Homo sapiens: one gene and its partners. The protein of the gene in region 5 purifies or fractionates together with the protein of the main gene of each other region. This does not show direct contact. Each region holds a gene or a part of one and is shown on either strand. Other genes may lie near its edges.

Region 1 (3,323 bases), on a different chromosome or scaffold from region 5:
GCAGGTAGGCCCGGCCGGCACCCCGGGGACGCCGATGCAGACGCGGAGCAGGATGGAGGGGCCGTGGGCAGCCTCCGCGCCTCCAACGCTCTCTCCTCCCAGCCTGGAGCCTGAGGACGCGGCGCCCACCCCGCCCGGGCCCTCCTCGGAGGGCGGCCCCGCGGAGGCCGAGGTGGACGGCGCGACCCCGACAGAGGGCGACGGCGACGGGGACGGTGAGGGCGAGGGCGAGGGCGAGGCGGTGCTCATGGAGGAGGACCTGATCCAGCAGAGCCTGGACGACTACGACGCCGGCAGGTACAGCCCGCGGCTGCTCACGGCGCACGAGCTGCCACTGGACGCGCACGTGCTGGAACCGGATGAGGACCTGCAGCGCCTGCAGCTCTCGCGCCAGCAGCTCCAGGTCACGGGTAAGGGCGGGGCTGGAGGCCAGGGGGTGGGGCCAGTGGGGCGAGCTGGGGGCGGGGCTTCTCCAGCCTCATTTCCCGGCCGAAGCCGCTGGCGTCAGTGGGGAGCTGCTTGCTGCTTCTCCCCCGGGTCTCTGAGCGTGCATTCCGTCACCTGCACGCGCACTGGGGCGTTCCTTCATTCATCCTGGGCTTGCTGGCCCACTGGCCTTGGGGCCACAGGTGGTGGAAGCTTTTACCGGCCGCTGTCCGAGCACTCCCTGGGCAGCCTCCGTCCTAAGACAGAGGAGAAAATACTGGCTTCAGAAAACCCCTGGGCCAGGACCCCCTCGGGGGTCATGCGTGGGGCTGGATCCCGCAGCCAGGCCCTAACCACCAGGTTCTCCTGTCGCTCGGCGGGGAAGCGCGCTGCGCTTGGTCCCCACCCAGGAGGACGATAGACATGAAGACCAAGGTCCGGGGCTCGGGGCGGATGGTGTGGGTCTCCGGGTCGCCCAGGCCCTGTCCCCTCCCCATGTGCCTTAGCTCGCCCCAGCCTGTTTTCCTTTTGCGGGAGGCACCAGCGGCCGCCCCTGCCAGAGAGGCTAGGAGGGAGGCCAGGACCCAGGGGGAGGCCGAGGCCCGGGTGAACGCCGTCCCGCCCGCAGGAGACGCCAGCGAGAGCGCCGAGGACATCTTCTTCCGGCGGGCCAAGGAGGGCATGGGCCAGGACGAGGCGCAGTTCAGCGTGGAGATGCCACTCACCGGCAAGGCCTACCTGTGGGCCGACAAGTACCGGCCACGCAAGCCGCGCTTCTTCAACCGCGTGCACACGGGCTTCGAGTGGAACAAGTACAACCAGACGCACTACGACTTTGACAACCCACCGCCCAAGATCGTGCAGGGATACAAGTTCAACATCTTCTACCCCGACCTCATCGACAAGCGCTCCACGCCCGAGTACTTCCTGGAGGCCTGCGCCGACAACAAGGATTTCGCCATCCTGCGCTTCCACGCGGGGCCGCCCTACGAGGACATCGCTTTCAAGATCGTCAACCGCGAGTGGGAATACTCGCACCGCCACGGCTTCCGCTGCCAGTTTGCCAACGGCATCTTCCAGCTGTGGTTTCACTTCAAGCGCTACCGCTATCGGCGGTGACGGCCCTGGGGAACGGCAGGCAGGTGTCCTCGGGGGCACAGTAAAGGGGCTTCGGTGAAGCTGGTGGTCACTCCGGGGCCGCTGTCTGGGCTGCAGGGCCGCGGGTTCACGTCCCACCTCAGGCCGCATCTTTCTTTCGCCAGGCCTCAGTTTCCTCCTATATAAAAGGGGGGTCACCATTGAGCCTGCCATGGTGAGCTGAGGAGACACTGGGACAGGCTGGCCTAGGGTCCTGATGCAACGGAGGGGGCGCTAGGGGCATCTTTCGAGCACGAGGGTGGCCAGCAGCCGCCAGCTGACCTCACCGTCCAGGCGGACACTCTCCACCGCCCCTCAGCCAGGCTGGGTGGGGCCCACAGGGCCTGCCCCAAGTGGCGGCCACACAGGGTGTTGTGGAGATGGGCCAGAGGGGCCTGGGCTTGGCGGTGCCAGGCTCGTGAGAAGCAGGAAACTCAAGGCCAGCCCTGCCACATCACGGGGCACCCACTGGGCGTGAGGCAGAGCCCGCGGCTGTGGGGCAGCTCCAGCCCTGCCCACAGGCCACCCTCGCCCGCACAGGCAGCACTGAGGCCGGGACCCTGCTGGCGCCCGATCCGCCACTGCAGAAGAGACCCTCTGTGGACACCCACACTCTGCAGGGACTGGCCCCCAACTCACCCCGTGCTGGCTGGTGGGGTCCATTTCCCCGCAGCGGGTATGGAGGATGCGTCGAGGTCCCTGTCTCTGTCAAGGTCGTGGGAACCAAAAGTCACTGAGCCGTCCTCCCCCCACCTCTGAGCACAGGGCCTGGAGGGCAGGGGCTCCCCGAAGGCTGGGGGTTGGAGAAGGGTGAGGGGCTTCCCCCAGGGATCCCCCCACCTGGCCTGCTCACGGGGCCTTGGAGCATGAGACCAGTGACCCCGAGTTTTGCCCATATCAGGACAGTGGCTCCTTCTCACTCCCCTTTCTCAGGCCAGGAGGGCCGAGGGCCACACGGGTGCCACAGCCCAGGTCGGAGTGGCCCAGCCGGCAGGCTTGTTCTTCAGCATCCGACGGGAACATCTCCAACAGAAGCAAAACGGAAAGTGCCTCCCGGACCCCCAGAGGGCCACCCAACCTCACCAGTCACCAGCCCCAGACCACCCACAGCCCCTCCCAGACACCCCGCCTCATCTGGAAATAGTTCCGTTTGTTTCTCTAAAAAGACTTGTAGGTGGGAAAAAAAATCTTTTGTTCTCATGGAATTGGCCTATTGGCAAGATCGCATGTTTTTTTAATAAACGTTGTATTTTAGAATAATCTTAGGTTTGCAGAAATGCAGAGAGTGTAACGTGTCCGACGCCCCACACCCGCTGCCCTAGTTGCTGCTGGCATTTGTGACACAGCGCATTTGTCCCAAGGGAAGAGCCTGGGAAACAACACGGCACCCAACTGGGGCCCGGTGGTCCCTTGGGAGCTGTGTTAGTGCCCGGATCTGTCTTTGCCCCCCACCCCTCTGCCTTGCCTCCCACAGTGGGGGTGACAGTCCATTTCCCAGACGACAGGAGGGAGGGTACAAGGGTGGACACAGCTGCTGGCCTGGGCCCAGGCTCTCATGGGGGCAGCGCTTGGCCATGCCTGGGGGCATTCGTGGTGGTCCCACCTTGGGGCTGCTCCTGGCGTGGAGTGAGTGGAGGCCAGGGATGCTGCCCAATGTGCTTCAGTGCCCAGGATGAGCCTCCCCAAATGTCCTCACTGCAGTAGGCAGAGGTGCAAGGCAGATCCTGCACTCCCCTGGGGCACTGGTCACCTCCCAGCCC
Region 2 (3,500 bases), on a different chromosome or scaffold from region 5:
TGTATTAGTGTTTTAAATTCAAGATCCTAGATATTTTAGACTTACATATAATAAAATTACATCAATATTGTTGGGTATAACATTTTTATGTAATCAAAATGGAAGTGAAATTTAATTGCTTTCAATTAAAATTCCTTTCTAGATAATCTCTAAATTTCTTCATCAATACAATTTAGATATTGTAGTTCCCAATTCATAGGCTTTGGGGGTGGATTAAATTATATAACACATTAAAAACCTTTAGCACAGTGTCTAGAATTTAGTAAGCTCTCAGTGAATTGAACCTGTTTATTATTTCTGTTATTACCATTTTAATTCTCTTAAAAGTAAAAGTATGTTTAGTCCTTCTGTATATAGAATATTTTGTTTTTAGCATGATTAAGGTAACAGAGGGGCATGATGCTGGCTTCTATATTCCAGAAGATCCAAATGAAAACTTTTCTGGTGTTAAATGTGTATTTATTATCTAGGAAACTTTTTAAAAGAACATAAATCATCAGTATCACCAACTAACTATTTTTGAAAACTCAGTGTTTTTACCACTGTACTTAGAATATATAAAAATTTAAGTATGGAAAACATACTTAAATAAAAATTAACTTTACTAAAATTGTTATTGTTTAACTGGCTTACAATCTTATGAATTTGGTTATGAGAAGAATGAAATAAAAGAAACTAATTCATTAAAGTATAGGTTGATAGAGGTCAGAAGACATGTACACTATTAAAGAGACTTACTAGTTCTGTGACTCATCAAAGTTTCCTAACTCCTCTCTTGGTATTTTGGGGCTAGTCCTGTGGAGTGAGTAAACAATACCCAAATGTTTATTTAGATTGTGTAGAATCAGTCAGAACAAAATGGGGCCTTCTTTAGGAAGGTTGGTTCCAGGATCTGCCCCTCTTACCTTCAGGAGGTGTACAGGGTAGGCAGATTGCTTCCATCAATATGCTCTGGATCCTTTGCTTGTCAGCTCTCTGTGGTTCTCTAATAACCTTTCTGCCCACCCACCTCCCCACCACCAGCTGGCTGTGATCCAGCACTTCCATGTGTTCAGTTGATTGGCACACAATTTTAATTAAATAACAAGTATTAAAACATACTAGAATAAAAAATAATAGAGCTGAGGAATGTTATTAGTATCATTTCTGGATTTTAGTTGGACTGTACCAAGGTTTAAAATGATCTCTTCAAAGAATCAGTTATTTTTCCTTCAGTTTAGTTCCTGTAATTTTTTTCAATCTGTGACTTTTCTTTAGCCCCTCTGCCTCCCATTTGGAAACTTTATTAATCCTTTTTTTAGTCCGTTTTTCCCAGGAATTTTTATGAAATTCCTTTTCTGTATTCGTACCTTCTTCCTGCCCAAAGCTTGCACTTCTTTCTCTACTCTTTTCTCTGTCCCTGATACTGCTTTACGTACTATCTTTCAACAATTCCTTCCCCTTCAGAAGCTTACAGATCACTGTCAAAATTATCCTTAATGCCCCCATCAGACCCTCAGAATGTGGATTTGAGTTTACATATAAATTCTTATTAACTTAAAATGTTCAAGTACTGTGAAGAATCCTAAGATACATTTTTTTCCATTATACTTTTAGACAAGCAAATCTGGATCTTCCTCTGTGGTATCGCCCCTCTTCCCAATTTTTTTCATCACTCTCAGGATCGAGAGGGAATATATAACTGATGAATATTTTCATTTACACCATTGGAATATTATTTAAAAATTAATGTCTATATTTTAACCTAGTGGTTGTCCGCTGTGCTCAGCTCCATTATTGCTGATATCATTTGAAAATATAATCTGCTTATTCAGTTGTTTGGATCAAAAAATGCAAACATTTTTAATGGTCATAGCAGATCTAAATTCTGATTTCTGAATTAGTTTTCATTTTTTGATGAAATCCTCAGAAATTTGGGTATGTTTTGATTAACTTATTAACTAGTGTAGGTGTTTGGACTTGATTTTTAAAAACTCATGTAATTACTTCAGAATATAATTAAATAGTTCTAAAGGTCTAAACAATTTGTTTTTATTTATTTAACCATCATAAGTGCCTCTATTCTATCCATTGTTGCCATTCTTTCATTTAAAATCTTTTCTTTTTTTTGAGACAGAGTCTCGCTCTGTCGCCCAGGCTGGAGTGCAGTGGTGCAATCTCAGCTCACTGCAAACTCCGCCTCCTGGGTTCACGCCATTCTCCTGCCTCAGCCTCCCAAGTAGCTGGGACTACAGGCCCCCGCCACCATGCCCGGCTAATTTTTTGTTATTTTTAGCAGAGACAGGGTTTCACCATGTTAGCCAAGATGGTCTCGATCTCCTGACCTCGTGATCTGCCCACCTCGGCCTCCCAAAGTGCTGGGATTACAGGCGTGAGCCACCGCGTCAGGCCTTAAAATCTGAAATTATAAATCTTATTTTGATAGTGTCTCAAAAATGTTGACTTTGATTTGATTGTTAATTATCTTCTATCTTTAAACGCTCCTTAAATAAGAAATAATACTTGTAGAATATGCTAGCTCATTAGAATTACAGTATTTATAAAATGATTTTATGAAGAACTTGATAACCGTCTAAGATTAAACTGAACATTTTTGTTTATTTTATCTTTGTTTGTTAAAACAGAGTCTAGCCCTGTTGCCCAGGCTGGAATGCAGTGAATCAATCTTGGCTCACTGCAGCCTCTGCCTCCCTGGATCAAGCAATTCTCCTGCCCCAGCCTCCTGAGTAGCTGGAACTACAGGTGTGCCCCGCCACACCTGGCTAATTTTTTGTATTTTTAGTAGAGACAGGGTTTTGCCATGTTGGCCAGGCTGGTCTCAAACTCCTGACCTCAAGTGATCTGTCCGCCTCAGCCTCCCAGAAGTGCTGGGATTACAGGCATGAGCCACTGCACTTGGCCTATTTTATCTTATTTGTAATGCATGAGAAAATATCCTTTGTGCCATTGGTTCAGCATTTAATAAAGTACTTAGCATGAATAATTTTATTTTTTATGTTGGACTATGGGAATATATAATAAAGTATGAGTATAGTTTTCTTTGTATGGTCTTTTGTGTGAGACTATGTCCTTATATTTCTTAAGCATATAGCTAAAAATGGACACACATGATATTTTTATGCTCACATCACAATGTAAAATTCATTCCAACTACAAAGGCAAACTGATGTGGAACAGTGTGGAGGGTGAACAAAGGGGACTAAAATCATGTATAGCTTGTATGGAGTATATAGTTGTGGTATAATTTGTGAGCTGCAAGGTAGCTGAACATTTCTATTTTGGTGTCAGTCCCTTGGGAAGGAAGGGGTTTCATAATGGAGAGTGATCTGTACTCTTAGTAAGAGTGATTGACACTGAATGATTAAATAGAAGAGAATATAAATACCACTCCTCCCCCTTTTAAGGCTAAGCACATAGACACTAAATGCAAATCTTTTCAATGTGGAAGAAAGTCTGGCCTAATGATAGCACATATCAGGAAAGCCAAGGGGGTGAATTAA
Region 3 (3,982 bases), on a different chromosome or scaffold from region 5:
CAGGCTGGAGTGCAATGGTGTGATCTCGGCTCACTGCAACTTCCGCCTCCCGGGTTCAAGCGATTCTCCTGCCTTGGCCTCCTGAGTAGCTGGGATTACAGGCGCATGCCACCACGCCCGGCTACTTTTTGTATTTTTAGTAGAGACAGGGTTTCACCATGTTTGTCAGGCTGGTCTTGAACTCCTGACCTCTTGTTCCGCCCGCCTCGGCCTCCCAAAGTGTTGGCATTGCAGGCGTGAGCCACCGCGCCCGGCCAGGAATGACTTCTTAAACCAGGATTTGATTTTGGTTGAACTTTGCTTTCAGAACTAGAACTACCTGCTATCCAAGACTTGTTAACCACGTTTTCATGGGCAAATTACAAAACCCTTTCAACCCCAGTTTCCTCTTCTATAAACTAGTGGTAATATTATTATCTCCAGAATTAATCTTAGGAGTAAATGAAATTATGTAAAGGCATTTAGTCTCATAACCGGGCTCCTAGAAAGCACTCAGGAATGTTAGTTCTCTATCCATTTCCCCTGTTTATCTTTGTGTTTGATGAATTATAGGATGATATGAAATGATCTGAAATGAACTGTAATATAAACATCAATAAAACACCAATAAAAAATTTTATTCTCACATCTGGATGCTATACTAGGCCTTCACCTCCTCCAAAAGTTACAGTTTTATTAATATTCATTTATTATTTATTATTATAGTCAAAGACCCAGAGAAGCATTCCAGGAACAAAGCAGCAGGTAAGATTTTTCTGGGAAAAGACAGAGATTTTGAGGGACCCAGGATTTGGGGGTCATTTAAGCAGCAGTGGATGTCAGTCTTCAAGCTTTGCCCATTTACTCTTGGTCCCTTTTGGTTCAGGAAAGGAAGAACAACAAGCACGAAACCATTCACTGAGACCTTTGCGGGTGGGGGAGGAGGGATGTAAACAAAAGCCAACGCTCTCTTTAGTTCACAATGGCTCGCGACCCCAAGACTTCCAAGCTCTTTGGTGAGGGCCAGCAGGTCTGTTCTCCAGGAGTGCCCTGGGTCTGGACTTCATTTCCCAGAGTCCCTTAGTGCCCTAATGTATTCAGTGCTCAGAGTGCCTGTATGTGTGTGAGTGTGAGAGAATGTGTGCGTGCGTGTGTGTGTGCGCGCGTGTGTGTGTCTCCGAGTCCCTGGGAGAGTGGAGGCTCATTCACTGATTAGATCCAGCGCTGAGAGGCAGCACTGCTCCTTCTCTCACGCCAACTGAGTCTCTTGATCTGTACATGCAATCCCAGGCAGCTCGCGAACACAAACCCGGGGCCAGCCGCCTACTGCTGCTGCTGCTGCTGCCGCTGCCGCCGCCGCCGCCGCCGCTGCCTCCGCCGGCTCTGCGAACCCGGGACTTTTCATGCACCACACTCTCCGCCTGCTTCCCTCCGTGTCCTGAAAAGTGCGACCGTTCTCCCAAGGAATTTCCACGGCAAGTATGGAGATCAGAAAGGGGTGTGGACGTGTGTGCGTACCCAAGAGGGGTGGGTGCGAGGGCGGCCGGCTTGTTCAGGAACCTGGCTAACTTTCCGGGTCCGTTTCCTAGGGATTCGGGCGGTTCCCTCTGGACGGGGGCAGGGACTGGGACTCGGACTGGCGCGTCTTGGATCATCGCGACGGAGCCTCTCGGCATCGGCGCCCTGCGCGCTCCGTGCGCTGCCTCGCTCAAACTTTCCGTCTTGAGTTTTCCTTAATGTGTTTTATTTGGGGAGGGGGGGAGGTGCAAGGGGGAGGGACCAGACGCGGGAATTGGACAAGTTGGGAGGGTGAGGGCACTGCAAGGGAAGGGAGCAGGACTTCTTTTCTCCGTCTCTTAATAAGCCCCATTCCCACTTTGTTCGGGTCGATATCGAGAATGCCTTCTCGCCGGGCTCTCTGGTGCACCCCCCGGTGATTTCCGGGCTCCCCTATGTACCCCGCGTTGATTTCCGGCGAGGCCAGGGCTGGGTGGTACTCAGTGGGGAGCCCGAGGCGGCGGGCGGATGGAGAAGGGGCGAGCCGAATGAGAAACTACCCCGACAGCCTCCACCCCACACACAGCCGGCTCCGCGGGATACCCGGGGAGTGGCTGTTTAGCCCTGGACCCCGGGTGCTCGGCTGACTTTTTCCTAGCGGGGGCGGGTGTGAAGGGTGTGGAGGGAGGGAGGTGGGGTAGGATGGATGGATCCTCTGCGGGCAGGAAGGAGGCAGGTGCTAGCATAGAGGCGGACCGTTCTAAACGCCACCGGTAAACTCCCCACTCCTCTGGGCTGGACCGGCCTGGCCGTAGAGTAGCCCGACACGTGGGATCTCCCGGGATTTTCGGGGTCGGGACCCCCTCTCCCAGCGGTTCTACTGAGCAAGGCGGGAGGACGATCGTGGAGACGAGGGCTACTTGACTACTCTACTTGTAGTTTTATTTTTATCTTAGACCTGCCTTAAACTGAGTAACAATTTCTCTTCTGACTTAAGAACAAAACTTTTCAGTGAGCACGCCGGTCGCTGCGGTCCTGCGGCCACTGCCGCCGCGCTTGTCAGCCCGGGCCGAGCGACCTTCTCTGCCCGGAACCCAGCCCCGCCACCGCACTCCGGAGCCTCCGGCCTCCCCCACCCCACCCCCGCCCCCCAACCCGGGGCTTTTCAGGGCTCGGCCTGGGCGTTTCGCCTTTGTGCTTTGTAAGAGAAAGCCTTTTCTTCCAGGGCACAACAAACTTGGGCGGAGAGCTTCCGTGTGGCCCCCCGGGCGAGGCCGCCCACGGTGGTGAGGCCATCCGAGGGGATGCCCGGTTCATCCCCCAGTCCAGGAGCCTCTCCGAGAGCTCGCGGCCCAGGTCGACCCCAGCTGGCGAGGGCGCGCAGGAGTCCCGAAGTAGCGGGGACTAGGGCAGCCAGGAGGCAGGGGGAAAGCTCTCGCTTCCCGTTAAGCACACCCTGCATTCTCGGGTCGTGGATGCAGCTCCAGCGGAGAGCCCGTGTTCCGGCCCTGAGCCAGGCGCGCGTCGCACTGGGTGGGTGCATGGGGCCCGGGCCATAGGTGTGGGGGCACAGCCCTACCTGGCCGGCCCGGGTCGTCTGGGGTCTGCGCCGGCCCACTGGCCCGGGAGCCGCCGAGGGGGAGAGCACCGCACTCGCTGCCCACGACGCCCAGCAGCCACATCTTGCCTCTCGCCTCCGCTCCGGACTCGGCTTGAGGGGCAAAGGGGAGAGAAAGGAAAAATAAAGAAAAAAAAGGGCGGCAGTGAGGAAGCAGCGAGGGGACTGGGGGGAGCAGAGTGGGCAGGGGGGCTTTGCCTTGCCTGGCCTCCTCTTTCCGTCTCGCGGGCTCTTCCTGCAAAGGGGAATGAGCAGAGGGGGGAAAGGCAGAAAGAGCGTCGAGGAAGAGCGGTGCTGGCGTCTTCCGTGCCGATCCCTCCTGGCCCGCAGAGACCCGGCAAAAGTGGCGTGAGTTCGCTTGCTGCGCTTCGAGGCAAGGCTGGGGAAGGCCGAGGACGGGGCGGCGCCGCGTCGCGCCGCTGGTGGCCGACAGGGCCGGGGCCGGGCGCGGAGCGAGCGGGGACACACACCTGTTCTGCGAGCCGCGCGGTGTGCGGCGGCCGGACGGCCGCGGTGCGGGCCGCAGAACCCTCCCTCCCGCACTGCGCATCCGCAGTCCAGGAGCTGGAAGGGCCCGGCAGCCCCGCGCCGGTCCGTATTTGCAGGAGAAGCGGGAGTGGAGGAGTCCGCGGCTGCCCGCTGAAGCGGTGGTGCGCGCGGCGGCGGGACCCGGGTGACCCCCGGGGCGGGGCTGCTCGGGGGCTGGAGGTCCTTGGACTTTGGTCGAAGGCTGGCAGCTCTGAGCCCCTGCCCCGCGGGCCCCGCGCGGCTGCGGACCAGGGGCCCTTGCACGTGTCGGTTCTTCCTGGACTGGCGCTTTGGTTGCCCAAAGTTGGGCGCAGATTGTTTCGTGCGGAGGTTGTTGGGACCCAGAGTATTCTATATACA
Region 4 (3,500 bases), on a different chromosome or scaffold from region 5:
TTTTTTTTTTTTTTTTGAGACAGAGTTTTGCTCTTGTTGCCCAGGCTGGAGTGTAGTGGTGCAGTCTCGGCCTTGCCGCAACCTCCACCTCCCGGGTTCAAGCTATTCTCCTGCCTCAGCCCCCGGAGTAGCTGGGATTACAGGCATGCGCCACCATGCCCAGCTAATTTTTTGTATTTTTAGTAGAGACGGGGTTTCTCCATGTTGGTCAGGCTGGTCTCGAACTCCCGACCTCAGGTGATCCGCCCGCCTCGGCCTCCCAAAGCATTGGGATTATAGGCATGAGCCACCGTGTCTGGCCATTTTACTTTCTTAATAAGCCCTTGCCATGTAGAATCTGGCTTTACCTAAATCTATGCAAACCGTGAGGTGCATCTTGAAAGCAGCAGTTAGGGTCAAACAGGTAGGGTCCAGGATCATCTGAAACAGTCTTGGATAATGAGGTTGGAGGATATGTGTTTTCTTTATATACCTATCCTCGTAGAATCTCCTTTGCTTGAGGTGATGTGAAATGGAGTTAAGGAAAGCAAAGCAAGAGAATGTGGCTGAGTTAGCTGGGGTTCTGCATCCCCTGAGTTTTCCTTTTTTTTTTTTTTTGAGACGGAGTCTCACTCTGTCGCCCAGACTGGAATGCAGTGGCACGATCTCCGCTCACTGCTAGCCCCGCCTCCCGGGTTCACGCCATTCTCCTGCCTCAGCCTCCCGAGCAGCTGGGACTACAGGCGCCCGCCACCAAGCCTGGCTAATTTTTTGTATTTTTAGTAGAGATGGGGTTTCACCATGTTAGCCAGGATGGTCTCTATCTCCTGACTTCGTGATCCACCTGCCTTGGCCTCCCAAAGTGCTGGGATTACAAGCATGAGCCATCGTGCCTGGCTTTTTTTTTTTTAGAGACAAGCTCTCGCTCTGTCACTTAGGCTGGCATGCAGTGGTGCAAACATAACTGACTGAAACCTTGAACTCCTTGGCTTAAGAGATCCTTGAACTCTTGAACCACTGTGCCTGGTTTATCTTTTTCTTTTTTTTTTTGAGATGGAGTCTCACTGTGTCTCCCAGGCTGGAGTGCAGTGGTGCAATCTTGGCTCACTGCAAGCCCCGCCTCCCAGGTTCACACCGTTCTCCTGCCTCAGCCTCCTGAGTAGCTGGGACTACAGGCTCCCGCCACCACGCCTGGTTAATTTTTTGTATTTTTAGTAGAGACAGGGTTTCACCATGTTAGCCAGGATGGTCTTGATCTCCTGACCTCGTGATCCACCCGCCTCAGCATCCCAAAGTGCTGGGATTACAGGCGTGAGCCACCGTGCCTGGCCTTTTTCTTTTTTTGAGACAGAGGCTCACTCTGTAGCCCAGGGTGGAGAGCAGTGGTGCCATCATAGCACACCGCAGCCTCAACCTTGGCTTAAGCAATCCTTCCAACTCAGCCTCTCAGCTAGGACTGCAGGTGTGTGCCACCACATTGGGCTAATTTTTAAATTTTTTGTAGAGATGGGGTCTTGCTATGTTGCCCAGGCTGGTCGCAAACTCGTGGACTCAAGTGATCCTCTTGCTTTGGCTTCCCAAAGTGTTGAGACAACCGGCATGAGCCACCAAGTCCAGCGCTGAAACTTTGCTTTCTAATTGTTACTACTAGTGCCATGTTTGACACTAACTGTTGCTAACTGAAGTAATAGGTAAAAGTTTAGTTTTTAAGTTCTAACTTTATTTATTTGTTTTTTGAGACAGAGTCTCACTCTGCTGCCCAGGCTGGAGTGCAGTGGCGTGATTTCAGCTCACTGCAACCTCTGCCTCCCGGGTTCAAATGATTCTCATGCCTTAGCCTCCCAAGTAGCTGGGATTACAGGCGTGTGGCACCACACCTGGCTAATGTTTGTATTTCTAGTAAAGATGGGGCTTCACCATGTTGGCCAGGCTGGTCTCGAACTTCTGGCCTCATGTGATCTGCCTGCCTTGGCCTCCCAAAGTGCTGGGATTACAGGGAGCCACCATGCCTGGCCTTAAATTGTAACTAAGGTAAGGGTCACTGTCCGTAAGCAGGATTTAAGGGTAACTGGTAGGAGTGAACCTAGCCTGTTTCTGTGACTGTTCTGTTTACATTGCTGCCATTTCACATGGTTTAGATTGACTCCCAGGTTTTAGGTGGTCAGGTTTGGAGAGAATGACATCTCATTTATACAGTGAGGTTGACAGACTATGGGCGTGAAGTGGTTGCTTTCAAAATTTGGTCTCTGATTTATTAACTTACATTTTCTTCTTTCTGAGGCATTGTTTAACCTTGAATTTATTTAGCCTGCTATAAAAAGCTGGTGATTGTACTTACCAAGAAATAATTTTTTCTAAGTTTAAAAAAAATTACTCAGATAATATTACAGGTCTGCAGACAGGTACTTTAGTATAGTTATATCAGAATCTTAGAGGGTGAGGCCTGAGCATAGGAATTCCGTAAAAGCTCATCTGTGTGATTCCTATGAACTGGCAAGATTGAGAATCATTGTAATAAGATAAAAGTGGGGCCAGACCCCATGGCTCATGCTTATAATCCCAGCACTTTGGGAGGCTGAGGTGGGAAGATCACCTGAGCCTGGAGGATCGCCTGAGCCCAGGAGTTTGAGACCAGCCTGGGCAACATAGTGAGACCCCCGTCTGCACAAAAAAATTTAAAAATTAGGTCGGGCCTGATGGCTCACGCCTGTAATCCCAGCACTTTGGGAGGCTGAGGCTGGTGGATCGCTTGAGCTCAGGAGTTTGAGACCCATCTGGGCAACATGGCAAAACCCCGTCTATATCAAAAATATAAATTAAGCCAAGAATGGTGTATATGCCTGGAGTCCCAGCTACTTGGGGGGCTGAGGCAGGAGGATTGCTTGAACCCAGGAGTTGGAGGCTGCAGTAAGCCGAGATCATGCCACTGCACTCCAGCCTGGGTGACAAAAGTAAGATCCTGTCTCAAAATAAATTTAAAAATTAGCTGGGTGTGGTGGTGCACACCTGCAGTCCTAGCTGGGAGGCTGAGTTGGAAAGATGCTAAGCTGAGGTTGAGGCTGCAGTGTGCTATGATGGCACCACTGCTTTCCACCCTGGGGGAATAAAACATGCTGGGCATGGTGGCTCATGCCTGTAATCCCAGTACTTTGGGAGGCCGAGGTGAGTGGATCACTTGAGGTCAGGAGGTCGAGACCAGCCTGGCCAATGTGGCGAAACTCCATCTCTACTAAAAATACAGAATTAGCCAGGCGTGGTGGCTCATGCCTGTAATCCTAGCTACTTGGGAGGCCAAGGCAGGAGAATTGCTGGAACCCGGGAGGTAGAGGTTGCAGTGAGCCGAGATTGCGCCACTGCACTCCAGCCTGGGCAATAGAGTGAGACTGTTAAAAACAAAAAAAAGATAAACCAGGCATGGTGGTTCATGCCTTTAATCCTAACAGTTTGGAAGGCCGAGGCAGGATTGCTTGAGTCCAGGAGTTGGAAACCAATCAGGGTAACAAAGTGAGACCCCAACTCTA
Region 5 (3,967 bases):
GGCTTGCCTGTAATCCCAGCACTTTGGTCCGCCATTGCACTCCGGCCTGGGCAACAGAGTGAGACTCGGTCTCAAGAAAAAAAAAAGAAAAAAAATTAAATTAAATTAAATTAAGTCAAGGGTGGGAACTCTGTGGAAATGAAGCTTCTGAAGCTGTCCGGGAAGAGAAGCGGCCCCTGGTCAGGCCGAGAACCCCACAGCAGCAGCCCCGTCTTCCCCCAGCTCACTGCTAGGCGAGGCTGCTCCTGCGCCTCCGGGCTTCCCAAAAATCCAGACGCAAACTGCGCGGCCTCTGCGTTCGCTTCCCGGTTCAAGTTACCCAGTAAAGAGGAACCTCAAACGCTCTGCCCTCGGGGCCCAGCGTCCAAACCCAGCCTGGGCAGGGCCGGCTCCTCAGGGGTCCTCGGCCGCCTGGGGGCCACAGGCGTCTCCCTGGTCCGTATCCAGAGCCTGCTTCTCAGGAGAACGCTGGCTCTGGGGCCAGTCCTAACCCACGAGGGCTCCTCTCGACCACATCTGCAAAGGCCCTATTTCCAAATAAGGTCGCATTCCTGGGTCCTGGGCGGACACGAACCTGGGGCCCGCGCATCCCAGCGTCGTCGCCGCCGCCAACCTCCGGCACCGCGCCGACCCGCGCGGAGTCTCCCCTCCATCATACGCGAGGATTTCCCTTTGGAGTCTCGCTCTGTCGCCCAGGCTGGAGTGCAATGGCGCCATTTCGGCTCACTGCAACCTCCGCCTCCGTGGTTCAAGCGATTCTCCTGCCTCAGCCTCCGAGTAGCTGGGATTACAGGCGCGTGCCCCCACGCTCAGCTAATTTTTGTAGGGGGGTGGGTGGGTTTCACCAGGTTGGCCAGGCTGGTCTCGAACTCCTGACTTCAGGTGATCCACCCGTCTCGGCCTCCCAAAGTGCTGGGATTACAGGCGTGAGCCACCGCGCCCGGCCGGATTTCCCTTTTAAATGTGAAGGCACCTCCATGCTCATCGCGAGCCTGACGTCCACGCGGCGCCCACCCGCGGGCGCGCCTGCCCCGGGCGCCACCTGCCCGGCTGCCCCCGCACCCGGCTCCGCGCAGCTCTGCACGCTGTCGCCCTCCGGCCAGCAGGGGGCGCCGCCCGCCCGCCCCGCGCAGCCGCCTCTTCCCCGGAAGTCCCGCCTCGGCCGGAAGTCGTGCGTCCACGCGTTTCGAAAGATGGCGGCGTCCAGGAGCGCGGGAGAGGCCGGCCCGGGCGGCTCCCAGGGACGCGTGGTCCGCATGAAGCGCAGAGGCGGGCGCGGGCCGCGCCGCGGTCCTGCTGGCGGTGGGGAGAAGGCCCTGAAGAGGCTGAAGCTAGCGGTGGAGGAGTTCGTGCACGCGACTTCGGAAGGCGAGGCTCCCGGGGGTTGCGAGGGGCGCGGCGCCCCGGTGAGCTTTCGCCCGGGAGGGAGAAAAAGCCGTAAGGAACTGAGGAAGGAGAAGCGGCACCTGCGGAAAGCACGCCGGCTGCAGAGGACGGCGGGCCCCGAACAGGGTCCCGGCCTGGGAGGCCGAAGCGGAGCCGAAGAAGCCAGCGGTCACCGGCAGGACACGGAGGAGCGCGCCCGCCCAGCCCCTAGTCGGGACCCCTCGCCTCCCAGGAAGCCGCGGCCGTCCCGGGTCAAGGCCAAGGCCACGGCCGCCACCGCAAAGACCAGACCCTCCGCAGCCGCCACCGCCGCTGCCCGGAAACGGGCGCTTTTAGCGGCGAACGAGGAGGAGGACCGAGAGATCCGAAAGCTGGAGCGTTGCCTCGGTTTGAACAAGCGCAAAAAGAAGGACGGCAGCAGCTCCGTGCCGCTGAGCTTTGCACGCGACGGTCTTGACTATATTCTGGGAGCCCTGGAGTCTGGGAAAAATAGCGGCTTGTACGACAGCAGTGGTGAGGAGGAGGAAGATGCCGGACAGACACTCCCCGAAAGTGACTTAGAGAGTGACTCCCAGGACGAAAGTGAGGAGGAGGAGGAGGGAGACGTAGAAAAGGAAAAGAAGGCGCAGGAAGCAGAAGCGCAGAGCGAGGACGACGACGAGGATACAGAAGAGGAACAGGGGGAAGAAAAGGAAAAGGGAGCGCAGGAGAAAAGGAGGGGGAAGAGAGTCCGTTTTGCAGAAGATGAAGAAAAGAGTGAAAATTCCTCGGAGGACGGTGACATAACGGATAAGGTATCGTGTGAACACTCTCTAGGCCCTCTGGGATTTCCTTCAAAATAACGGGACAGGGAATGGGGCGTGAGGCAGAAATGACACAGACTTGGTGTCTTGATAATGGTTTCAGCTGAATGTGAGTAAATCGAGTACGTTACTCTATTCGGTCTTCTTTCATGTTTTTAAATTTTCATAATGTAAAGTTTAGGAGAAAAGCAATATAGAGACATTTTTATCCCGGGGACTTAAGGGCCATTTCCACAGTGCAGCATCTTCATTCTGTGTTTACCAGCCCAGGTCTCTAAACCTGTTAACCCTACCTCATCTGTTAAGGCCTCTTTCGAGTATCCGAGGACATCTGCCGTGCCCGACTTTTAGAGTGAATTTTCTAAAACTCGAAGCTAATTTACAGCACTCCCTTAGATAAAGTCCAACATTGAATTAAAGATAAAGGCTGAGGCGGGGCAGATCATTTGAGGTCAGGTGTTTGAGACCAGCCTGGCTAACGTGGTGAAACCCCGTCATTACTAAAAATACAAAAAACAGCCGGGCGTGGTGGCAGGCGCCTGTAATCCCAGCTACTTGGGAAGCTGAGGCTTGAACCAGGGAGGCAGAGGTTGCACTGAGCCGAGATCGCGCTACTGCACTCTAGCCTGGGCGAGAGAGCCAGACTCTGTTTCAAAGAAAAAAAAAAGTTCAGAATCTAGGACGTAGCAATCAAGGCATTCATGGGCTGTCATCTTGCATATTTTATCTCAGCGTTCCTTTGCATGTAGCTCATGGTTGGAGGCAGCTGTGTGGAATTGCCTGCATTTCCTTCTCCCCACATCGCACTAGTTCTATGTATGTAAATATTCAGCTTCTATGTATACAAATATTCTTTATTGAACCAGGTTTAAACTACCTAGCAGTGAGGATCGTGCCTTGCAAATGTTTGTGTCCTTAATGATTTGCAAACACCACCACCCCCCTTGATAATTTAGGAAATAGCAGTGAGTTGGTTTTGATTTTTTTTTTTTGAGACTGAGTCTTGCACTGTCGTCTAGGCTGGAGTAGAGTGGTGCAGTCTCCGCCCACTGCAAGCTCCGCCTCCCAGGTTCATGCCATTCTCCTGCCTCATCTCCCAAGTAGCTGGGACTACAGGCGCCCACCACCATGCCCGGCTAATTTTTTGTATTTTCAGTAGAGATGGGGTTTCACTGTGTTAGCCAGGATGGTCTTGATCTCCTGACCTCGTGATCCGCCCGCCTCAGCGTCCCAAAGTGCTGGGATTACCGACATGAGCCACCGTGCCCGGCCGGTTTTGATTTTTATCATATAAACTTAGATATTACTTTTAAACAAGTTTGAAATTGTTTTTAGGACACTTTCCCTCCAAAATTAGCGGTTTGTTTAATTTAGGTTCTTGTATGCTACTGTGCCTGCAGTAAGTTAAGGCCGAGCAAAAGCGCAGTAGATAGGGCTCTGTTGGAGTTGAGCAGATACCAGAGGTGCACAGCTGGGTCTGAAGAGCTACACAGGGGAAAACGAGATGGTGAAATGTATTATTAATAGCATTAATGGGAATAGTGACAGGCACAGCCTGGTGAGTGGAATGTTTACCCATATACTAAGCACTCAATAAATCTGATGTATTTAAGCAGCAATGATCAGTAGCAGCTTCCACCAGTTCTTGGAAGTTTAATATTTAAATACACATATGGCAAAGAAAAAACACAGGATTTGGTCAGTGTAAATTTTTTGTAATTTATTTCTCTTTTCAAGCAGAGTCTTTGTGGAAGTGGTGAAAAGTACATCCCACCTCA
Region 6 (2,508 bases), on a different chromosome or scaffold from region 5:
TGCAGGTTTGTCACAGCAAATGTAAAAGCGGATTCAAGAAGAATGAACTTAAAAACTGTGGAGCAAATTTTTGTTGAAAATATATAAAGTCAGAAAGAAAAAAGATGTAAATGTTGGAAGAAGCAAATTCTATTACTAATTCAAATGAAACTAAATGTCAAACACAGTACTTGTGTCAACTATTTAGCATCCCAGATTTTGTAACATATTTTGCATAAATTATTTGCTCTTCAAAAATTTTTGTCATTTTAAATCTAATTTTAATCTTTATGTTTTCCATTTTCTAATTTCCTTGCAATGTATTATTCTTATTCTTAATTCTCTACATTGAAATTTGGCTTTACGTCGTTAGCAAATTTATAAAGGGTTATAAAGCTATGATTCGTGAGTCTAAAATCAAATGCAAAATTTTATTTATTATGTAAACCAAAATGTCATTTGCAAGTTTTCTCATTAGAAGTTATCCTTGCAAAGATAGAAAAAGAAGAATTAATTTGTGTAAACAAGCACAAATTAACATATTTGTTAATAAATAGGTTTATCTACTAATAAACCTATTTCTAGACACATTCAAATTGATAATGATTTTTAGAAATGTTAAGGTTCCAAGGAGTCTTACAAGTGTATGCCCTTGATTTCCTGAAGGAAACCACTTTCTTTCTTAAATATTTTAAATTCATCTAAAGTGAACGACTATAAATAGAAGCAATCACCTTGGAACCACAGCTCTGTGCAACCAAGGCCCTAAGCTACACCAAATACGCCAGGAATTTTGAGACTTCTCATCTTTAAATTCAACCAAAAGGGTCTTTAGCAAGAAAAAAAATGCTGGATGATGATTATTATTATTTTTGCTTAATTTTTATTTTGCCATGTCCAGGTTAAGGGTGAGGGTGGTGACAATCTGAAAGACTGTGTCTGGAATCTTTATCACATATTTCCAATTTATTTCAGTTTTTGTCTAAAACTTGCATTTCTAACCTATCTTTTCCAGCATTTGATAATCTCCCATTTCCTCCTTCTAACCCCCATTCCTATGTCTCCCTTCCTGTCTATTCCTCACCGATTTAAACAACTGAAATGTTTACTTATGTTTGGAGCTGAAAAATGGAAAGTTTCACCCAGCATGGTTACAATAACAGCCAGCAGCTGCAGCAAACCATAAAGTTATGCAGTGTTTTGAAGTTCACAAACCACATTTTACATAAATTATCTCATTTTGTCTTCATAACAACCCTATGAAGACACATTAATCTCAAAGAAATTGAGCTCTTACCCCAAAACACAGGGCCAATAATTGGTGCAGTTGAATTATTCTCAAAATTTACAGGCTGTTAGTCTTTCCACTGTACTAAAAGATTTCTTTCTCTGATCAGAGCAAGAGAACTTCCAGAGATAATGGATAGAATGAAAGAATATATATCTATATATATTTGACATGTTGTTTAGTAATCCCTATTTTAATTCAATTCTCCATCTGTAAAATATTAGCTAACTGAATTATTTCTGTGTTCTACTCTGGGCTCTCACATTAAAACTCTGTTCAAAAAGTTTAACAAGTCACATATTTCTTAACATACAAGTTCGTTTGTGAATGTGCAGAACAGATGCTCCCAAGATGTGGATGCATGTAGGCCCCGAGGTACAGACATAAAATCAAGGAAGCACAAGGAAAGAAACCCCAAGGAAAAAACCAAAGACCTTCTAAATTGAGACTGCATAATTATAAAAGAGATCCATAGTACAGGGTTGAACACATGTTCAACACTTTGTCAACTGAACACATGTTCAATTCGGAGCTAATTGGGAAGACTTACATAAAATTCTTTTTCTTTTTTTCTTTTGGCAAGATTTCTTCTTAAACCATGAAATTTTTTTTACTTGTAATAATAGAGAACAATTTTCTCCATTTTCTTATAAGAAAAATAAAATATAATTTATCCAAATTGATGTATAGAACCTAAAACATATGCTAACTTGCAAATAATATATTTTACTGATCAACTCATTTTTGTCAAGTCTCTATTTCTAGTCCCTCCTGAATGTTTTGGAAAACCACAAAACTATACAGATTAATACAAATTACATTTTTACAAGGAAAGAAAACATTCCCAAATTTAACACTCAAGACTAATCACATAATCCTATTTTGAACTCAGATCTCTCTGACTCCATTGACTGCTTAGAAATAGTAAAATCTTTTTGAAAAAAAAATTTTCTAAAATAAAACTATTGTATATGAGAGTAAAAATATATTTGTTTTTGATTGTTCCTGACTAGAAGACAGATATCATCTCTCAAACTAAACACTCAAAATAAGAAATTGAATTCATGAAAACCAATACCTGATGTGAATTGTTGTTATTCAACTGTATAAAAGAAATGCAGATGTTCTGGGTATGTCAGAGCATGCGAAAGAAGAAGTTATGGGACTGGCAGGTATTTGGCCTCAGGAGAAAAGGTGAAAATTTTCCAGAATAGATATAATAACATCTTATATTGGCACAG
Region 7 (4,299 bases), on a different chromosome or scaffold from region 5:
CTCATCCTCTACCATTGATATTTGGGTGGGTTTTGTGTTTCTATATTAAACTACACCACTATGAACAAATCGTATGTGTACATTTATATTGATATACTTATTTTCAGCAACCACAATAATCCTGCCTCTTTTGGCGTGCATTTGCATTTTAATAGGTATTAAGCCTTAAGCCAAAGGCACACATTTCTAAGATAGAAATTCAAGTATCAGTTAGTGGAAAAGGAATATATTTGGGGGACATATTATTCCTTTCTGTTCCTCAAGAAATCTTAGTAATGAGACAATTGCCTGCAACTGCCTACTCATACATCTGAGTCAAATTATATGTGTTATTTATATGATAAGCCCCCTTAATTATTAATATTTTGGCAAACAATCTAAAACCAAGGCTCTTTCTAAAAATATCTATTTGCGATGATCCACAGCAATTCTAAATGCTTATGTGAAATTCATTTAAATTTCTCACGTCTGCTAAATTAGGTTAGCAGTCTTACCTAGCAGTCTCTCCCTGCATTACATTGATTCATTCTCCTGGATTATTCTAAAAATTGTTATCTGCCAGAGGATTATGGAATAAACTAGTAAAAATGAGGAAAAAATGGAGGTGATGCACTATGTTTTTCAACGTCTGTCCAAGCTTAAAGAAAGTGTGTAGGTCCTTTTAAATTATATATATATCAGGTGTTTTATCATGTCATCCCTTCTAATTCTGAGGATATTCTGCACATTTTAGAGTAATACCATGATAATGCAGAACTCAAGTGCTTTTGTTTTTCTGGAATTGCACATTACAATAAGTGATTTGCATAAGAAATGATTTGCATTCTAAATGTAGATGATTTAAGGATAATGGCTGCACTAAGAATGTCAAGCTAGAATTCTACTCTTATCTCTTAGTTACCTTCACATTTGGTAATATACTATAGATTATAACTGCTTTAAGACTAAAAATGTAAACTTTTAGAAAGTAGTGTTCTAGACTGTTCAATAAAATGCACAAAATTGTAAAATGCATTTTATGTCAAAGGTTGAGAATTTGAAAATCAGACTTAAACATGTTAAATGTAACCTGTTTAAAATTGATTAAAATTGCATTTTTCCCTTGAATAAGATTTCTTCCATAAGCGGTTAGTTTAAAACAATATAAATAAATAAAACAAACCAACAGCAACAGTGAATAAAACTTAAATTTCAACAATTTCTGTCATTTGCAAAAGATGATAAATCTCCAGTGACGTGCAGAAAAAACAAATTTCAGGTCATGGCAACTTTGAAAAACTATTAATTGCATAACATTTAGAGAAGCAGTATTTTACTTAATATTTGCTATAACTGAAAGGAACTCCTTGGCATAAACCTTTTAAATTATTGGAGAGAAAAAAATAGTGATTCTGTGCCTTTAATTTCCCTTTCTGAGCAAGGGAAGGCTGCACACCACTGACAGGCTCACTTGTTCCCGTCTTTAATGTGCAATCTGTTTTCTCCAGCGGAGGGCACTCAGTGTATCACAAACTCAAGCATTAGCACCAACAAGCTCTGAGCATCATCAGTCTCTGGAAAGCCTTCTGAATTAGACAAGGGCTGCCTCCCAGCACAGCTACAAAACACTTTAAACCTGACCAGCTAAATGGATAAACCTAGCCTGCATAGCTTTTAAACTGGGGTCTCATACAGCACAGGAGGCCTACTTGCTTCAAGAACTGAAAATCCAGAGGATGAATTGCTTTATCTGGGAATGGCAAAAGCCAGCACAATAAGGAATGCCAGGTATTCTGAAGATTTTCTTTTTTTCCTCTCTTTTTACAGAGAAGTTGGTTACCTCCGAGATGGGCTGTAGCTCTTTTGCACAGATTGCCAATTACTGCTGATGGGTCTCTGGTGAATTACACAATGGTCCTCAGAGCCTAGAGGCCCTCCCCCATCCCTATCCCCCCAACGGCTTCCTTTTCCCTGCCCCCACAACCATCCCACCCTGTGCTGATTTTTTATATATATATATATATGTATATATATATATGTATTTTTTTTTTTTTTTTTTGCCTGTCCTCTCGGGGAAGTTTGTATGGGGCTACTAGCTCACATGCGGGATCAGAATGGTGTGAATGACAGCCGCACTGTGTCATGAAGGTGGTGGTGGTTTCCGCACAAGAGACCAAATAAGAAGAAAGCTGAGAGAGGGGGGAAACGTTTTTGGATGACAAAGGATGGGTAAGTGAACTTTTGTTGTTTCCTTCTGAGCAAAGCTGATCCTCTTGGCTTCCTATCCTCAGTCGTGGCATTAGCAGATAAAAGACGGGGAAACAGGCAAAGAGCAGCAGCCTTTGAGTTTGCCAGTTGATTCACTATAGTTGCTATTATATTTTTAGATCATTTTCCTTTTTGCAGTGTTTTTTTTTTAATCTATAAATGCACAACACGAACTTAAACAGACTCTAGAGAAATATCTTTAAGACTGTTTCTACTGTCTGCGTATCCACAGCTTGGGAATTCAGAAGGAGATAAATACTGTGTTTGCTTCTATTTCTTGATAATATTAACGAGGCTTGTGTTTCTGGTAGCTGTCAGGATGACTATTAACACTTTGCTGCGTGTATGTAGGGGTGGGGTCCTTACTTTATCAGAGGTTGCACAAGGGCTTGTTTTATCTTTGAAGCTGGATCCTGAACACAGCTTCCGAATTTCCAGCAGTCATTTGCCAGTCTTATTTTTTCGAGTGTGACTGGCTTTTTTCCCCCCCTTTCTCCTGTCTGGGAGAGCTGGAATGTATTTCAATGAGTCTGTAGCTGGCAAGAGGACAGAGAGCAAGATCGGGTTTTAAATTAAAAAGAAAAAAAAGAAAAACTTAACTGTTTGAGAAGAAGGATGGGTTTTAGATTAGGGATTTGGTTGATTGCCTCTTGGTTAAAAATTTAAAAATTTAAGAAAAAAAAAGAAACTGCAACACATGGTAGTTGTTTCTTTTTTTTTCTCTCCATTAAGAAATAATAAATCTACTGTTGACGGAGGAAAGAAGTCCCTTAACATGCAATGACTTGGAAATGCAGTGTAAGTGCCAATAGATTGTAACTTTGCAGGCTTTCTGAAGTTAATGGAGATAGGGGAGAAAAAAGTCAGTGAGAAATGTGAAGAGATCAGGGTGATGTAGAGAAAAATAGTAGTTGGCTGCTTCTTTCCTTGTTTATCCTTCGAATTTGCAAAAACAACTCTAAAATAATGGCAAAGTGATACTACACAATATTATTTTGCTTTTTAGGCAAATAATACGAATTTTGATAGTCTTAACTTTGGAGTGTTCTCTGTTATGAGTATTTAGATGTCTTAGCTCCTGTATCGTTGGGCAGGGAGCCACAGTATGCAATAATCTATGCTTATTAACAACTTGAGAGCACCTCGTACCGTTATTAGTCTTCATCCAATGCTTCATTGGCTGCCTATACTAGTCTCAATGCTGTTTTTTCAGAGCTCACATATTGCGATCCTATTATGCAATAAGTACACAATTTCAGGCAGGGCAAACTTGGGTTACCTTGACAGCTTACTGAAGCTCTTTTGCCAAATCACAGCCTGTTTGCTCAACTGGGAAACACGTACAGGTACCAGGTTTACTAAGTCACATTTTTGCCCTTACCAGAGCACATAGTACACTTCCTTTTGGTACTGTTGTTCAATACAGTGGTTAGCCAAATATTATTGTTACTAAAATGTCAGCATTCAGTGGTGAGAAAGGCTCTGTGCTTTTCAATGTTGAAATAAGTAGGAACTCCTGAAACTCAAAAAGGCTTTTCTTAATTCTATGGGACTGTGGTGATTTGAAGATCAAGGAAGAAAAAGTGAAACCTAAGCAGCAAACATGCAACACTGAAGAAAATAATGCTCGAAATGTTAATGCATTTTCCTTAAATCAACTGTCCCATTCCTACACTAGAGGAAATGCCCCTGTTGTTGGTAAACCGACGGTGATTTATTTTAATAGCTTCACAATGTGCATCTGTCTTTTTTTTAATATCGTAGGTTTCCATTTAATTACGCAGCTGAAAGGCATGAGTGTGGTGCTGGTGCTACTTCCTACACTGCTGCTTGTTATGCTCACGGGTGCTCAGAGAGCTTGCCCAAAGAACTGCAGATGTGATGGCAAAATTGTGTACTGTGAGTCTCATGCTTTCGCAGATATCCCTGAGAACATTTCTGGAGGGTCACAAGGCTTATCATTAAGGTTCAACAGCATTCAGAAGCTCAAATCCAATCAGTTTGCCGGCCTTAACCAGCTTATATGGCTTTATCTTGACCATAATTACATTA

The links.
Region 1: the proteins of NOM1 (region 5) and CACTIN purify together in Homo sapiens (affinity purification with mass spectrometry; one large-scale study listed by BioGRID and IntAct). This does not show direct contact.
Region 2: the proteins of NOM1 (region 5) and LIN28B purify together in Homo sapiens (co-immunoprecipitation; one large-scale study listed by IntAct). This does not show direct contact.
Region 3: the proteins of NOM1 (region 5) and RNF220 purify together in Homo sapiens (affinity purification with mass spectrometry; one large-scale study listed by BioGRID and IntAct). This does not show direct contact.
Region 4: the proteins of NOM1 (region 5) and RNF10 purify together in Homo sapiens (co-immunoprecipitation; one large-scale study listed by IntAct). This does not show direct contact.
Region 6: the proteins of NOM1 (region 5) and LRRTM3 purify together in Homo sapiens (co-immunoprecipitation; one large-scale study listed by IntAct). This does not show direct contact.
Region 7: the proteins of NOM1 (region 5) and LRRTM4 purify together in Homo sapiens (co-immunoprecipitation; one large-scale study listed by IntAct). This does not show direct contact.

What each region holds. Positions count from the first base shown.
Region 1 is NC_000019.10:3,610,145-3,613,467, reverse strand, and holds the end of CACTIN (splicing factor Cactin), read left to right. Parts: coding exon 1-4; exon of another isoform or gene 5-102; coding exon 103-410; exon of another isoform or gene 411-683; intron 684-1,054; coding exon 1,055-1,545; 3' UTR 1,546-2,823; downstream 2,824-3,323. UniProt on the Homo sapiens protein: Plays a role in pre-mRNA splicing by facilitating excision of a subset of introns. Required for the splicing of CDCA5/Sororin, a regulator of sister chromatid cohesion. Involved in the regulation of innate immune response.
Region 2 is NC_000006.12:105,072,107-105,075,606, forward strand, and holds part of LIN28B (protein lin-28 homolog B), read left to right. Parts: intron 1-3,500. UniProt on the Homo sapiens protein: Suppressor of microRNA (miRNA) biogenesis, including that of let-7 and possibly of miR107, miR-143 and miR-200c.
Region 3 is NC_000001.11:44,404,073-44,408,054, forward strand, and holds the start of RNF220 (E3 ubiquitin-protein ligase RNF220), read left to right. Parts: upstream 1-1,182; 5' UTR 1,183-1,458; intron 1,459-2,719; exon of another isoform or gene 2,720-3,009; intron 3,010-3,362; exon of another isoform or gene 3,363-3,442; intron 3,443-3,982. UniProt on the Homo sapiens protein: E3 ubiquitin-protein ligase that promotes the ubiquitination and proteasomal degradation of SIN3B. Independently of its E3 ligase activity, acts as a CTNNB1 stabilizer through USP7-mediated deubiquitination of CTNNB1 promoting Wnt signaling.
Region 4 is NC_000012.12:120,540,856-120,544,355, forward strand, and holds part of RNF10 (E3 ubiquitin-protein ligase RNF10), read left to right. Parts: intron 1-3,500. UniProt on the Homo sapiens protein: E3 ubiquitin-protein ligase that catalyzes monoubiquitination of 40S ribosomal proteins RPS2/us5 and RPS3/us3 in response to ribosome stalling.
Region 5 is NC_000007.14:156,948,545-156,952,511, forward strand, and holds the start of NOM1 (nucleolar MIF4G domain-containing protein 1), read left to right. Parts: upstream 1-1,167; 5' UTR 1,168-1,193; coding exon 1,194-2,180; intron 2,181-3,926; coding exon of another isoform or gene 3,927-3,929; coding exon 3,930-3,967. UniProt on the Homo sapiens protein: Plays a role in targeting PPP1CA to the nucleolus.
Region 6 is NC_000010.11:67,099,544-67,102,051, forward strand, and holds the end of LRRTM3 (leucine-rich repeat transmembrane neuronal protein 3 precursor), read left to right. Parts: 3' UTR 1-2,008; downstream 2,009-2,508. UniProt on the Homo sapiens protein: Exhibits a limited synaptogenic activity in vitro, restricted to excitatory presynaptic differentiation. May play a role in the development and maintenance of the vertebrate nervous system.
Region 7 is NC_000002.12:77,519,577-77,523,875, reverse strand, and holds the start of LRRTM4 (leucine-rich repeat transmembrane neuronal protein 4 isoform a precursor), read left to right. Parts: upstream 1-1,499; 5' UTR 1,500-1,760; coding exon of another isoform or gene 1,761-1,767; intron 1,768-2,057; 5' UTR 2,058-2,204; coding exon 2,205-2,208; intron 2,209-4,011; coding exon 4,012-4,299. UniProt on the Homo sapiens protein: May play a role in the development and maintenance of the vertebrate nervous system. Exhibits strong synaptogenic activity, restricted to excitatory presynaptic differentiation.